Linked DNA regions of Homo sapiens: region 1 is linked to region 2. Evidence: fine-mapped expression QTL. A gene starts in region 2. The other region holds a variant in brackets. All regions are shown on one strand. Distances are between the middles of the regions.

The links. PIP is the estimated chance that this variant, and not a neighbour inherited with it, causes the effect. A credible set is the group of variants that fine-mapping cannot tell apart.
Region 1: its variant is the best candidate, but not a certain one, in a credible set for the expression of MARCHF5 in whole blood (TOPMed, PIP 0.54).

Annotation. Positions count from the first base shown.
Region 1 is chr10:92,049,009-92,057,343 of GRCh38, forward strand. It overlaps CPEB3 (cytoplasmic polyadenylation element binding protein 3), which reads right to left. Exons shown (of 10, transcript NM_014912.5): 10 at 1-3,431. The coding sequence ends at 3,204. Among named protein-coding and RNA genes, the nearest start is that of BTAF1, 130 kb to the left of the region's middle. RefSeq lists an enhancer at 8,076-8,335. The variant T/C (reference allele first, on the strand shown) is at 4,502.
Region 2 is chr10:92,287,121-92,295,455 of GRCh38, forward strand. MARCHF5 (membrane associated ring-CH-type finger 5) reads left to right here and starts at 4,047. Exons shown (of 6, transcript NM_017824.5): 1 at 4,047-4,409. The coding sequence starts at 4,375. CPEB3 (cytoplasmic polyadenylation element binding protein 3) reads right to left here and starts at 3,958. Exons shown (of 10, transcript NM_014912.5): 1 at 3,806-3,958. RefSeq lists enhancers at 3,252-3,461, 4,409-4,987 and a silencer at 4,022-4,271.

The DNA of each region.
Region 1 (8,335 bases), 240 kb before region 2:
TATGTTTAATTTTTTTCTTAGCAAAAAATCTTTCTAAAAATAACAATGAAAATTTGTCTCAGTACAAAGGCTACATTACTATTGAAAAAATACCAGCATGAAGAAAAGGTACATATTTGACAGTAGAAAAATGATTTCAGTGAATCACAATGTCTAAAGTTTGCAATGAAAATAAATCTGCAATAAAGATTTATGCCTTTTTTCTTTTCTTTTTTTTTTCTATTTTTTATACAAACAGTACAAACAGTATTGCACATAACAACAAATAGTCGAGGTTAGGTTATAGCCTTCAAAAAATCGACTAGTTCAAGTGTCACACCAAGGAAAGGCCACAGCAGGACCTGTGTTACCCAGGGGCTTCCCAGTCAAGTTGCAGGTCAGAACACCTCTGTGTTTTAAAAAATAATTTTTTTGAAGGACCCTCTCTTTTAATATAACATTAACAACTTGGGGGCACATTTATTTACAAAACAAAAGGGAACATGTTATAATTTAATAAACTAAAAAAGTTCTCTTTAAAAAAATACAAACAGAAGAACTCTTTCACAATCCTGGTCAGTCGCGCACAATCAACACTTGATTAGAAATATACAAATTAAGGGAAAGTAGTTTCCACCATCTATTCACAACTTTCAGCACCAAATGGAGTTTATTTTTTGTAACCTATTCTTCAGGACAATGTTTTTTGCCTTCACTTTAGCTTTATGCTGTACAATCTTCCAGCTTTTAAAAAAATCTCAGTGTTATTTTAATACATGAAAGAGGGGTGCTTCTTCAAAAAGTTTTGCTTCTTTCACATAATTAGGTAGATTTCTGTAGGTTAGATATGATCTTTAATATTATAGTTATAAAGCTCTAACTTCTTCATTTTCAAAAAACACAAATAAGCATGAAAAAAATAAAGTTACCCATCTGTTAAATCATTTTCTTGCAGAATTAAATTAATATATATTTTTCTGAATAAACTTACTTAGAAAATATCATTTTCTTTCCTATATTTCAAAATTGAGGTATTGCAAAAGATCATGTCAGTCAGAAAGCATGCCTTTTTCCTTAAAAACAAAAAAAAAAATCTGCCAACTTTTGAAAACTGTCTAGAATACAAAAAGTAGTAGTGCATAACAAAATTTCTTGTACAGATGAAAAAAAACCCACAAACATAGAAAAAAACAAACAAAACCACACCTGGGCTGGAAAAAAGCAATTATTACCAAAAAGCCTCAAAAAGGGGAGGATTCTAAAATAAGCATTTTTAATCCAGTAAAAAACTATTTTGTTTTTCCTTTTTGAAAACAAACTATAGCTTGAGAGCCAGTAATTGCAACTAAACATGGGAGAACAAAACAAAAACAAGCAACACTAACTTAAGACAGTACAAGGACATCACAGCACAGAAAACACAGCGACTTAAATCTATTCTGCAGTGTCATATCCAGTCAGATTGTCCCCAGAATTCCAAAACATAGGAAGAAGATTAAAAAAAGATTTACATAGTCTTGCAATCATTGTGTGTGTTTATATATTACTATCTGCAGCCCAAGGGTGAATGCTAGAAAAATGTCCACGCTAGTGCTAGCAGGCCTTCATTCTAGACCACGCTAGTGCTAGCAGGCCTTCATTCTACTCAAGCTTAACAGGATAAATCCAGGGAATTAAGTAGTTAGTTTCTCACTCAGACAACCAACTCTGCCCAGGCCATCTTATTTTGTACAGACATTTCTTTAGCATCACCATTACACAACTTTCTTAAAAATGTGCCTAGTTTGTCAATCTGACAACTTATCTCTATATCCTGTATATATTCTTAGTGTTTGTAAGCTAAGATGAGCTCTTTGGTTTTCTGGACAAGGTCTGAAGCTATGTAAAATGGTGCAAGCACTAAGAGATTGTAACTAAGAGCTCATGTGTTAGTTTATAATATATCAGTTATGAACTGTCAAGTTCATTAATGTCTGACAGAGGCTTTAAACAGTTAAGTTTGATCACAGTTAGACATAATCACTTTACTATATAAAATAAATTTCACAATATATAACAGAGCACCGCAAAGTACTTCATCTACCATCCACAAATTTGCTTGAAGAATATCCTACACCTAGGTTTTATATCGGTTGTAATATAGGTCATTCTGTTATGGGCTCTTCCCATTCAGAGCATTCCATTTATTGAGGCATGCCTTCCTCCGGTCAATTACCAATTCTTTGAATGAAAAAAACTTTTTTTAAAAAATGAGTATTTTTATAGCTTATATAGATTCTTAATTTGTGCATTGTGGGAACGTTTTATACTAGACATTGGATATAAAATTTATTGCATGCAGCAACCTGATTAAGTAAACATGCAGTCAGAAATAGTGACCTTCCACCGAAGCTTTCTGAAGTCTATTCTGATCTCCGTTCGGCAGCTGACTCTATCCCTAAAATCACAAAAGTGTGTTGTTGGGTTTTTGTGTTTAATTGATATCCTAGCCTGAATAGAGTATTATGGTATTAATAATACCATTTTAATAGCAGCAAAAGCTATTGCAGCATAAATTTACATAATACTAAAAGATCTAACCAAAATCCTCGGCAAAACAAAAATCAAACATGAAGGAAAAATAAAAGATCCAGCTTATGAGGTATCCTTACAAGTCAAAATAGAGAGCAACTAAAGGCTTATTTTCATGAAGGGTTATCCTTACTCTAAGTGACCCGAGCTAATGATTGCTGAATTGTTGTGAAGTTTTTGCTACATCTGCCACCTACTCACGAGTATTACCTTTGGTAAGTCTTGTCCTAGGGGCAACTCTCTAAGTTTCTGAAAATAAGTGCATGCTCCAGTTCAAAACAATCAGAACAACACCACAACAACAAACAAAAGAATCACAGACAGTAGCCTGACGGCCGCTGATGAGAATGGCAGTCTACATACTGTCACGAGTGACAAATCAGGTATAAAAAATTAAGGTACCAAGCAGACAAAGGTGTGAATCAAAGTGCAAATCAGTACCATTCTACACTCTGCAATTCTGCATTATACTGGACACTGAGTTCAGTAATATGACTGTAAATAATAATAATAATAATAAAAAGACCCAATTCTTCTTTAAAAATCGAGAACGAATGCACAGATTTCCAGAACACTGTAAGCCCTGAGGCAGTGCCCTCTCTTTTCCCTCCTTGTTATCTACTCCAGTACTTGTGGCTGGGTCGGCCCGTGGCTCAGCTCCAGCGGAACGGGACGTGACGAGGGCGGTCGCCTCCCTCCTTCACCAGCGGTTTGTGGAACTCCCGCCCGGCTCGGGAATGTATGCTCGCCCAGCAGTATTCACAGTAATACTGCAGACAGGTGACGTTGGCACAGAAGAACGGGGCAAACTTCCCACCACAGCGTGTGCCCTGGCACTCATCACACATCTGATCATCCAGCACATATGGCTTTACTTCAACCTGGACCCAAAGAGGAAAGACAGAGAAAAATGATTTAGCAAAGCTTCCTTACATGTCTTGCTTTTGAGAGTTTACACTATAGCTTCAACGTATGTCTCAATCAGACGCTGCTTTCAACTCTGCTGATACTGGATGGTGGTTGAGAGCATGGGCTTTGGAATAAGCTCCTTGATTTACATCTTGCGTGATATTAGACAAATTCTTAAAATCTCTGTGCCTCTGTTTGCTCTATCACTGTATCTGTAAAATGGGTATGTTTACACACACATAAACACATTACACACACACATTTGTGTAATCTGTAAATGGGTATAACAGTGTTTACATCAAAGGGTGCTGGGGAGGATTAAGAGGGGCTGTGCACGTCAAAGCGCATGAGCTGAATCCTGAAAGCCGGGCAGCATCTGACAATGCAGGCAAAGAAGAACATTGCAGGGAGAGGAAGCAGCCAGGACAAAGGCCATAAGCAGGAGGAGGCAGGCACATCCTTGGGAGATGCTGTAGCTGAAGCCAGGCCCGAGGGCAAGAGGCACAATGAATATGGGAGGAGCTGAAGGGAGATGCTGCTGTGAGGCTGTGCACCTCAGTGTCGTAATGACACAGCTCCCTGAGACTAACACCCCAACATTGCATACCATGGACTGGAGAGGAAAAGGGACTCACAGCTGAGGTGTTAAGAAGCTACTATAATAATTGGGGCTTTTTTATTTTTGGAACTTTCTCTGTTGACTTAATCTCCCCCCAACACTGGAAACTTCAATAGACGACAACTTTTCATCATAGCCCTTTAGGGAACCTTTTTAAATCTAAACGAAGCAAAGCTGCATGACTGAAAACCAAAAAAAGAAAAAAGTTACCACGTTCTCACCCACTTTCCTTTCCTAAAACTTTAGAAAAGAAACATCATTAACTTTATCATTTTTTTTTTTAATTATTATTTTTTGAGATGGAGTCTCACTCTGTCGCCAGGCTGGAGTGCAGTGGTGCGATCTCGGCTCACTGCAAACTCTGCCTCCCAGGTTCAAGTGATTCTCCTGCCTCAGCCTCGCGAGTAGCTGGGATTACAGGAG[T/C]GCGCCACCACGCTCGGCTAATTTTTTTCTTTTTCTTTTTTTTTTTTTTTGAGATGGAGTCTTGCTCTGTCGCCCAGGCTGGAGTGCAGTGGCACGATCTCGGCTCACTGCAAGCTCCGCCTCCCAGGTTCACGCCATTCTCCTGCCTTAGCCTCCTGAGTAGCTGGGACTACAGGCACCCGCCACCACGCCTGGCTAATTTTTTGTATTTTTAGTAGAGACGGGGTTTCACTGTGTTAGCCAGGATGGTCTCGATCCCCTGACCTCGTGATCCACCCGCCTCGGCCTCCCAAAGTGCTGGGATTACAGGCGTGAGCCACCATGCCTGGCACACTCGACTTATTTTTTGTATTTTTAGTAGAAACGGGGTTTCACCATGTTAGCCAGGCTGGTCTCAAACTCCTGACCTCAGGTGATCTGCCTGCCTCAGCCTCCCAAAGTACTGGGATTACAGGCGTAAGCCACCATGCCTGGTCGAAATAGTATCTTATTGTGGTTTTGATTTGCATTTTTCTAATGACTGACAATGTTTAGCATTTTTTTCATGTGCTTGTTGTCCATTTGTATATCTTCTTTGGAGATATACAACTCAATGGGGAAATGCATAGAGAATAATTCACATAAGAATTCACAGACAATTCACATAAAAATATTTGTATTAGCTGGTTGTGGTGGGAAGCAGCTGCAATCCCAGCTACTCAGGAGGCTGAGGTGAGAGGATCACTTGAGCCCAGGAGTTCAAGCCTGGCCTGAGCAGCATACTGTTTCCCTGGCTCTTAAAGAAAAAAAAAAAGATGTTCATATTTACTCGTAGTCAGGAGAAAAACTGATGCCATTTTATTCTCATCAGACTGGCAAACATTTAAAAGACTGATAACTATTTCTCATCATTTGCTGATAGAAATATGAATTGCTACATCTTTTTTTTTTTGAGACGGCGTCTCACTCTTGTTGCCCAGGCTGGAGTGCAATGGCGCAATCTCAGCTCACTGCAACCTCCACCTCCCACAACCTCCACCTCCCAGGTTCAAGCGATTCCCCTGCCTCCGCCTCCCAAGTAGCTGGGATTACAGGCGCCCATCACCACACCCAAATATAATTTTTATATTTTTAGTAGAGATGGGGTTTCACCGTGTTGGCCAGGCTGGTCTCAAATTCCTGACCTCAGGTGATCCACCTGCCTTGGCCTCTCAAAGTGCTGGGATTACAGGAGTGAGCCACCACACCTGGCCTGCTACAACATTTTTGAAAAGCAAACTAGCAAATTATTCAAATTAAAAATATGTATACCCTTTGACCCAAGAATCCCACAGTTGGATATTGTTCCTGCTGTAATCCCAATGCTTGGAAATATAGCCACCAGATGTGAGGACCTATGTAAAGTATATCCATTGCAAGACTTGTCCACAATGGCAAAAAATCAGAAGCAAAGTAAATGTCTACCTACAGGGAAACACTTGAATAAAATGTGGGTTATCTATTCCCATGGAATATCATGCAGCCATGAAAAAGACTTAATTAGTGCTCCATCAGTTGATGAGAAAAGATTTCCATTACACAGGGATATTAGGACCAAGTGGAATGATGGATACAAATACCTACTGCAAGCTGTAAAATGCTTAACAAACATATGTAAGGTCATGTAATACATTTGTGCTGATATTTGAAAATGCAGTATTAATAAAACAGCACCTTCTGTCTATTTGGGCTTCCAACTAAGCTTGGTAACAATGCTCCTTACTGCCTGAAGGGTTTTGAGGGATCTAGTCTACACAGTATTTCAGATGTGTCATGAAGGTTTTCATAACTGCCTCGAGGCCAGAGGCACAAAGTGATGCCTTATTTACCAGCTTTCTTAGGGAATAACATATACCTCAAGTTATTCTTCCAGAAACCAGGCACTTCTCCTTTTTGGTGCCAACATATCTTGAATGTTGATGTTTTTTGATGAAAATCTTGCTAAAATGTACTAGTCCCCCACCCCCTCTTAAGCAGGAGACATTACGAACATTCTTCATAAGGAATGCCAAGTAATACAATGCAGTAGAGAGTTTTCACTTTTTCTGTCGGCCCCCTTCAAAAGCTGGTGGTCTGCTATCATATCTAAAACACCTTCCAAACACCTCTTTTAAGTTTGCAATTTCCCATCATTTTCGTTTTGCCTAGAAAGCTAGAAAAATCAAGTTTGTGAAGAGCTGAACATTAAATGCCAATAGATATGACTCTTAATATGGTGAAAAAAAAATTAGGCTGGGTGCAGTGGCTCATACCTGTAATCCCAACACCTTGGAAGGGTGAGGCAGGAGGATCCTTTGAGCCCAGGAGTTCGAGACTAGCCTGGGCAACAACAACAAAAAAATTAGCCATGTGTTGTGGTATGCACCTGTAGTCCCAGCTACTTGGGAGGCTGAGGCGGGAAGATCCCTTGAGCCCAAGAGATAGAAGCTGCAGTGAGCCAAGATTGTGTCATTGTACTCCAGCCTGGGTGACACAGTGAGACCCTGTCTCAAAAATATATATGTAATAATAGTAAAAATAAACAAAGAACGTGGCTTTTGGATTGTGACTGTGCTCTCAGAGGCCTTTCCTGAAAGCTTCCAGAGGGCAGTCTTCCAGATGAGCGAGGGTGCTGTCCCTGCAGAGCTGCTCCTGCACCTGTTCATGAGGTGTTGTCTGAAGAGCAGAGGCTTGCCCAAAAACAAGACACACACCACGATGCTCCACAAACACAGATGTGCAAGTTAGCTACTACGACCTCTCAAACAGCAACAGTCAAACAGTATTTCTGGACTGAAATCAACAGAAGACAGGCAGAGCAAGATGGAAGAATAGAAGTCTCCACCCATCAACCTCCACCCGACCCATGCCCCACAAGAACAGGAAGTTAATAACTATCTACACAGAAAAAAATACCTTTAGAAGAGCCAAAAATCAGGTAGGCCCTCGTAGTACCTGGTTTTATCTTCATATTGCTGAAAGAAGCACTGAGGAGTCAGAAGAATAGTCCCGAATCACCACACATTTAAACCAGCCCAAGCCTGAGGGGAATCTCTGATTCCAGCAGTGGGAAATTGAGTTCCCCCAAACCTCGCCACTGTGGGCTACAGTGCTCTGTGTCTTTAAATCAGCTTGAAAGTCCGTCTAGGCCATAAGGACTGCAACACTTAGGTGAGTCCTAGTGCTGAACTAGGCCCAGAGACAGTGGATTCGGGGGGCACGTGGACTACTGAGACATCAGCCAAGGGAGTGGTGGCATCACCCCTGCCCTAACCCCAGGCTGCACAGCTCATGGCTCCAAAAGAGACCTCTTCCTTCAGTTTGAAGAGAGGAGAAGAAAAAGTGGGAAGAGCTTCGTCTTGCATCTTGGATACCAGCTCAGCCACAGAAGGATAGGGCTCAGTCAGAGTTGTGAAGTCCCTTTTCCAGGCCCTACCTCCCAGGTGACATTTCTAGACACACCTTGGGCCAGAAGGGAACCTGCTGCCTTGAAGGAAGGACCCAGTCCTGGCAGCATTCATTACCTGCTAGCTGAAGAGCCCTTGGGCCCTGAATAGCCAGCAGTGACACCCAGGACCTTGGGTGAGCCTCTGAGACTTGCTGGCTTCAGGTACCAGTACGGCCACAGTTGGGTAGAGCACTGGGCAGCCTCCTGGGGTCCCCAACTCTAGGACTTGACTCTTGAATGGCATTTCTGGACCTGCCCTGGGCCAGAGGGGAGCCTAGTGCCCTGAAATATGGGTTGCAGGCCAGGCAGTACTTACCACGAGCTGACTTAAGAGCCCTAGGGCCTTAACGGCCTGGCAGTACTTCTCATGGCTTGGGGTGGCGGTGGCT
Region 2 (8,335 bases):
ATTTATCATAGACTTTTTTTTTTTTTTGAGACGGAGTCTCACTCTGTTGCCAGGCTGGAGTGCAGTGGTGCGATCTCAGCTCATTGCAACCTCCGCCTCCCAGGTTCAAGCGATTCTCCTATCTCAGCCTCCTGAGTAGCTGGGACTACAGGTATGCGCCACTATCATAGATTTTCAACCCTACATATAAATGCAGGAGTGCATTTCAATGTGGTTTTGGTCAGATTAAGGTCTTAATAATCTAGACTTTTTTCCTTCAAAATCAGAGAATATATTGTAATTCCAATTATTCTGAGTCTTATTGGAAAATGTAAGACCACAAAAAACAAAGCTGACAAACAATATTGAAATTCACACAATATGTGTCACCCATTTCAAATGTTAGGATTAATTTATTTTCTGAGTTTTATCAATCACTATTTTTGCCCATACTAATAAGAAACAAAGTTGATAATAAAGAATTATCAGTTATCTGTTTATATGCTTCTTTTCAGATACCCTTATGAACATTTTCTGTGGAGCTAATTACTCTTTTAAAAGCTTTATTGAGATGTAATTTATGTAACATTAAAATTCACCCCTTTTAAGTGTACAATGGGTTTTTGAGTATATTTACAGTTTTGCCACTATTACCATAATCTAATTTTATCTTATTTGTGATATAATTCACAAAATTATATAACCAGAACCATTATCTAATTCTAGAATACTTTCATCCCTCTAATAAGGAACCTCATACTCATTAGCAGTCACTCCCCATTTCTCCCCAACTCCTTCAGCCCTATGCAATCACTAGTCTACTTTCCGTCTCTATGGAGTTGCCTATTCTTGACTTTTCATGCAAACAGAATCATACAATATGTGGTCTTTGTGACTGGCTCCTCTCACTTGGTATAATGTTTTCAAGGTTCTTTCATGTTATAGCATGTATCATAACTTTATTCCTTGTTTTCTCCTAATAATATTCTATTGTATGATACACCACATGTGGTTTATCCATTCATCAACTGGTGGATATTTGGGTTTCCACTTTTTGGCTATCAAGAATAATGCTGTAGGCCAGGTGCTGTGGCTCATGCCTGTAATCCTAGCATTTTGGGAGGCCGAGGTGGGAGGATCATTTGTGCTCATGAGTTCGAAACCAGCCTGGGCAACATGGCAAAACACCATCTCTACAAAAAAAATTTTTTTAAGCCAGACATGGTGGTGCGCCCCTGTAGTCCTAGCTACTTGGGGGGCTGAGGCAGGGGGAGTGCTTGAGCCCCTGAGGCTGAGGATGCAGTGAGCTGGCGCCACTGCACTCCAGCCTGGATGACAAAGCGAGACTCTGTCTCAAAAAAAAAAAAAAAAAACCCAGAATAATGCTGCTATGAACATTCACAAACAAGATTTTGTGTAGACATGTTTTCATTTCTCTTGAAAATACCTAGAAGTGGAATTACTGGGTCACATGCTAATCACTCTTTAGACCAGTAACAGGATTTTTTTCTACTTTAAAAGGTTTTTGACACAGCCAGAAAGCTGATTTTTCATAAAAATGCAAACATAAAATCCATTTGTTGGTATAATAAGGTCAAGGTGCACAAGTCTTTGCTATCAACAAAAGGTATCATATTTTCCAATTTCAGTTGAAACAGACATTCTAACATTGGTTAAGATCTTAGAATCTTGGAGTTTGTACTAGTGTACTTAATCCATATGCTGGGATAAAATTCTGTTTTTAAGCAGGAAGTATATATCCAACTCCCATGGCTGACAACTGCTTAAGAAATAAGTACACAATAAGGTTAGACTGACACAGCACAAGGAGCAAAAAATAATAATTTAAAATGTTAAGACACCGGGCTGTGCACGGTGGCTCACATCTATGATCCCAGCCCTATGGGAGGCCGAGGCAGGCAGATCACCTGAGATCAGTTCAAGATCAGCCTGGTCAACATGGTGAGACCCTGCCTCTGCCAAAAATACAAAAGTTAGCCAGGCATGGTGGTGCGAGCCTGTAATCCCAGCTACTCCGGAGGCTGAGGCACGATAATCACCTGAACCCGGAGGAGGAGACTGCAGTGAGCCAAGATAGTGCCACTGCACTCCATCCTGAGCAACACAGCGAGACTCCGTCTCAAAAAAATAAAATAGACCAGGCGCGGTGGCTCGCCCCTGTAATCCCAGCACTTTGGGAGGCCGAGACGGGCTGATCGCCTGAGGTCAGAAGTTCGAGACCAGCCTGGTCAACATATAGTGAAACCCCATCTCTACTAAAAAACACAAAAATTAGCTGGGTGTGGTGGCACACACCTGTAGTCCCAGCTACTTGGGAAGCTGAGGCTAGAAGGATCACTTGAAGTCAGGAAGTGGAGCTTGCAGTGAGTCAAGACAGCGCCACTGCACTCCAGCCTGGGCAACAGAGCAAGACTCCATCTCTCAAAATCAATGAATTAATTAAATAAATGAATTAATTAAATAAAATATTAGACACTGGTCACATGCGGTGACTCACATCTGTAATCCCAACACTTTGGGAGACCAATGCGGGTGGCTCGCTTGAGCCCAGGAGTTGCAAGACCAGCCTGGGCAACATGGCGAGACCGCGTCTCTACCAAAAAAAAAAAAAAATATATATATATATATATATATATATGTATTATATATTATAAATGTATATATGTATTATATATTATAAATGTATTATATATTATATAATACATATATATTATATATAATACAAATATATATAAAATATTAGACACCCCGATTAAACTAAATACTCATTTTCTTTCCCTAGGAGGAGTGTGTGTGTATGTGTGTGGTGGGGGGGGGTGGGTGCTGTTTCTCAAAAACATATTTCAAAAATTGGAGGCCAAGTAAGCTTCTGGTCACATTTTTTGGGTTTGTTGTTTTTTCCCAGCAATGAACACTCTAGTTCAAATATACTTCGCAAATTTTGAACAGATAATGAAAAGTTGATTGTAAAATTCTACATATAAAAAGAGCTTTAAAAACACATTTTCATTTTTTAAAAAATCAAACACCTTGTAGCAGATATTAGACATAATCAAGGGAAAACTACCAGCGTCCTACCAATCACAGCCCTAGAGAAAACGCCACAGGTCGTCCAAAAAACGCATTCGTTTGAGCCGACAGCTCTTTCCTCCCGCCAAAGCTATCCCTCGAACGTCAGAAGCTGACCCAAGGAGTGACTGATGATTTCTCCTTTTTGATTCCCCACCCCCGCCACTCCCAATCCACCTGCTTGAAGGTGTCAACGCGACTAGAAACGGTTAACAGTGACCAGCAGCAGAGAGAGAAACAAACATCCCTGACAACCCACAGCTGAGTAAGCAAGAGCTGTTTATTCACCAACGTGTTCCATTTGGAGACTGTCGGCGAGCCCTGGAAAGCCCAGGCACATTTGAGAAGGTTCCTGGAGAGGGAGAGAATCATCTTTCCTTCCCCCAACTCCCCAGCCCCAAACACACAGAGAGACTCGGGTGGAAGCTGTCTGGTCCAGGCAGTCCCTATTTGCCCGCCCCCTCAAGAAGAACCTCACGCACCAAACCAACCGACCCCTCGCGGAGGTGGTGTAATTCCCCCAAAATGGGCTCTGCCGCAGGAGAGGCTGGCTCCAGCGCCGGGGGCTTCGGAAGGAGTTTCTGCCACCCCCACTGCCGCCACTGACCGCCCCGACGCCACGGCCGGGGCCGGGGACCCTGATAAGAAATGGCCCTTCAGCCCCCTCCCCTCACCTGGCTCGGTCCCACCTGAGGGCAAGAGCGGAGGCAAAAACAAACAGGCAGGGAGGGCTGACCTTGTTGCTACCGACAGTGGAGCGGCGCATCCTGCTGCTTCCTGGAAAGCGGCCCGAAAGACATTTTTTCCCCCTGGAGGAAGGAAACGGGAGGGCGCCGGCCAGACGGCGGCAGGCGCGGAGGCGTTGGTCCGGGCGGGCTGTGCAGCCTCTAGTGGAGACGGTCCGAAGACTACATCTCCCAGGCTGCTCTGGGCCGCCCTGCGTCGTAACCCTGGCGCGCACGGAGGCGGCGACTCTTACCTCACAAAGGTAGCTCCTCCGCCGGCAGCAACTCGGCGCCCGCGGTCCATGGACCGGAACCTCGGGCCGACGGACGGGAACCCGGGCCGCGATCGCCGCCTCCCCGCCTCAGGCTCCTCCTCCTCGCTCTCCGCCGCCTCCGCCGGACTCCCGCAGGCCCTGCACCGCCGCCGCCAGGCTAGCGGAGCTGCCCCGGGAAGCTGGGTGACGGGTTCGCGGCTGCCGCCGGACTGCGGCCTACTCCGCCGCCTCTCAGTGCTATTGTCCCTGGGCCTGGCCTTGAGCGGGTCCACTGGGGAAGGCCGTGTGCGCCGGCTCCGCGGAAGATGCCGGACCAAGCCCTACAGCAGATGCTGGACAGGTACGGGCAGCTGTGGGGGGGACCGGGAGCCGCCGACCCTCGCTCTGGCCCTGCCCGCGCCCGCCCTCGAGGCTCTTGGTGAGCAGAACCCGGCGTGCCGGGAGGAGTTCCACGGCCAGGGGGCCGTGAGAGGGGCAAAAAGTTTGGAGTCTAGACCTGGGGGAGGACAGAGCGAGCGGCCTGGGTCGTAGACTTTGGGTGAAACTTAGCTAAGGAGTGGCGTCTGGTTTCCTTGGAACCCCGTTTTGACCTGAGAGGGACTCCTGTTAATCCACAAAATTAGTTTTCCTTACCCTCTTCCCCTCCCCCTTCCCCCTCCCCAACTTGTGAAGTGTTTGTCAGCGATGTCACTGGCAAGAACCGGGTTATCTTTCAGGGGAATGACCCCCTTATAATTTTAAGTCTCTGTCTGAGAACCAATGATAAGCATTCTTTTGGAAAGCCTGATAGGCTGATTTCATTCTCCCACTTTCCCTGAACCCGCACCCCCCGTCCCCCCCGCCCCATCCCGTCCCCACCTCCGAACTGTAAGGTCAGAGTATCCGCAAGGGAGATTTAACGGTCAGACCAGAGTAGAGGTTATGGAAAACAGCCAAATGAGTCCAACGCTGAACATTTAGTGTACTTGACGATCGTTGAGTTCATTGAAGACGTTTCAGCTCGTACAGGAGTCCAGTTGCCCATTCTTGGGGGGCCCCAGTCGGTAAAACTCTTTGTGAAGTCGGGTGCACCGCCCTCTGCTGTTGAAATTCTGGTCCGTGGGTCCTACCATGAGTTTTTGGAGACTCTAGATCCACATTTCCCCCGAGCCAAGTCTTACTTCCTGGCATAGCAAGTTGTACAAGCTAATTCATGATGTTTGTGGTTGCTTACAATTCTCAATAGACACCACTTGCCACCCATTTCAGCAGGTGGTACCAACTCTTTGTACTCAGTAAAATTCCAACTGTAAGGTGTTAAATGAAGGCCCTCCCTTAATTGAGTTTATACCCAGTTAAATGCTTTTGGGCCTGCCACACCCAGAACACAAATGACCCAAGGGTACACATCCTTCCAGAGTGACAGACATTTTTTTGGAGCTTAGAATTTTGAGCCATCTCAGTTAATAGGAATTATGTCACTGATTTTTTTCAGTTGAGATAACTGGTGATTCATCCAGCCCTTGTTTCAGGTCAACATCCTGACAATTGTATTGACTGCTTTATATATATATGTGTGTGATATGTGTGTGGTTTATAAGCTCTTGGAAGCAGAAACTTACTATTGTTTATCTTGAATCCCAGAACAGAGCCTGGTACTCAGTAGGTAATCAGTAAGTATTTGTTGTATGAACTAATGCACAAACTTATTTGTCAGTTTCCCCAGTTGTCTAGGGGGTCTGATAATTTACCAGGTTTTCCTTTCATTGTAAATTGGCAAATTGTGGCAAATTAAAATATGCCCAGAGGAAACCACCTGCCACTGCCAGTTCTATTCTGTTGAGACCCTGTTCTGATGTGGGGTATTTTGTAGTTAATTTTTTTCCTTTGAGGGCCTCCTGCTTTTCATTTTTACATAGTGACTTTTTTTCTTCTTTTTTTGAGACAGGGTCTCTGTTGCCCAGACTGGAATGCAGTGGCAGTGGCAGTGGCATTGGCATGATCTCAACTCACTGCAACCCCCGCCTCCCAGGCTCAGGTGATCCTCCTACCTCAGCCTCCCTAGTAGCTGGGACCACAACACATACCACCATGCCCAGCTAATTTTTTGTATTTTTATAGAGCCAGAGTTTTGCCATGTTGCCTGTGCTGGTCTCAAACTCCTGGGCTCAAGTGATCCTCCCGCCTAGCCTCCCAAAGTGCTGGATTGTCAGGCATGAGCCATCGTGCCCAGCCTAGAAAAGTTCTTATGTCCAAAAGCTGACCTAACTTTTCATATGCTCTTTGGATATTTCCATAAAAGTAAGAAGCCAAAGAGTGAGCCTGGGCACGGTGGCTCACCCTTGTAATCCCAGCACTTTGGGAGGCCAAGGCAGGCAGATCACTAGAGCTCAGGCCTTTGAGACCAGCCTAGCCAACATGGTGAAACCCTGTCTCTACTAAAAAAAAAAAAAAAAATACAAAAATTAGGCAGGCGTAGTGGCGTGGGCCTGTAGTTCCAACTCTCGGGAGGCTGAGGCATGAGAATTGCTTGAACCTGGGAGACGGAGGTTGCAGTGAGCTGAGATCGCACCATTGTACTCCAGCCTGAGTGACAGAGTGGAACTCCATCTCAAAAAAAAAAGCTAGTGAGGCATTTAAAACTTATTAACAGAAATGCGAAGATTCTGGCTGCCATTTACTGAAGTAGGTGACTATGACACTGGCTTACTCTCATCTTTGTACTACTCTCATCTTTGTACTCTTTTGACATACCTTAAGGTAGATTTTTAACATGACTTTCAAAGACCGTTATTGTCTAGATTAGTAGTTGGCAACCTACTTCCATGTTAGAATTACCTGGGGAGCATTTCAGAATATGCATGGATGCTGGACTGTAAGACCAATAAGATCAAAAATTTCTGTAGGGTAGAGCCTGGGCATCTATATTTTAAAGCTTTTTAAATGTTTTAGATATGGCAGAAACCTACTGCCCTAAGTCCTAAGTCAGTGATATCTTTCATGATAAGAGATAGTAGGGTATAGTGAGTAAAGCTTGGGCTCAGAGATAGAAAGTATGAAATTCGAATTTTGCCACTTACTAGCTATGTGACTTTGAACTTAGATTCTGACACTATGTATATTATCATTTATAAAATGAGAACCCTACTTCACAGGGCTACAGCAAATGAAACATACATCTCTATAAAACAGCAAAACACTCTATGTTAGCCAAATAGAAGGCACTTAAGACTAATGTAAACCAGTTTGGCCATTTTTCCCCCATCTACTTTATGTTTACAGCTTTCTTCACCTGGGCTGGCCCTACTGCAAGTTGAACACAAAGATACTCAACATGGTTCACTTGAGGAATACCAACAGGGCCAAGAGACTAAAATATGTCAGCCTATTAGGACCCAGAATTCTTTTCATGAATTTGGCTTCTCCCCAACCTGGTTTTTGGTGGCAATTTTTGAGGGACAGAATTTAGCTCAGATAACTGTTCATTTGTTTATTTCTTTAATGCAGGTTTTATCTTCGTGAAGACTAAGGAACTGTGTGTTACATATTGTTCTGTTGCTTTTAGGTTAAGTTACGTATTTTATTTAGGCCAGGCACAGTAGCTCATGCCTGTAATCCCAGCACTTTGGGAGGCCGAGATGAGAGGATTGCTTGAGCCCAGGAGTTAGACACCAGTGTGGGCAACATGGCAAGACTCAGTCTTTACAAAAATGTTAAAAATTAGGCCAGGCCTGGTGGCACATGCCTGTGGTCCCAAATATTCAGGAAGCTGAGGTGGAAGGATTCCTTGGGGGTCGTGGCTGTAGTGAGCTGTGTTTGTGCCCCTGGGTACTACAGCCCAGGTAACAGAGCAAGACCCTGTCTTAAAAAAAAATGTTATTTTTCAGTAAATCAATTATTAAACATTTACACTTATTGAATTTATTTAACAAATACTGAGTGTCTTCATATGCCCAGTACTATTCTAGGCCCTTGGTATATAGTGGTGAATTGAACATAACAAAAATGCCCTTATGGAGCTTCAATTCCAGGGGTGTTTGTGTTGTCTAAACTGTCAAAGTGAAGACTATTTTAATTGTAATATGAATGGTATGTTCAATTTATACCATTTAATCTTTCAGGGTTTTTAAACTAGAGGCAACTTTTCTTTTTTTTTTTTTTTTTTTTTTTTTGAGGCGAAGTCTCACTCTGTCACTTGGGCCAACTGGTGACAACTTCTTTTATTTATTTATTTATTTATTTTTTATTTTTTTTTTTGAGACAGAGTCTCGCTCAGTCGCCCAGGCT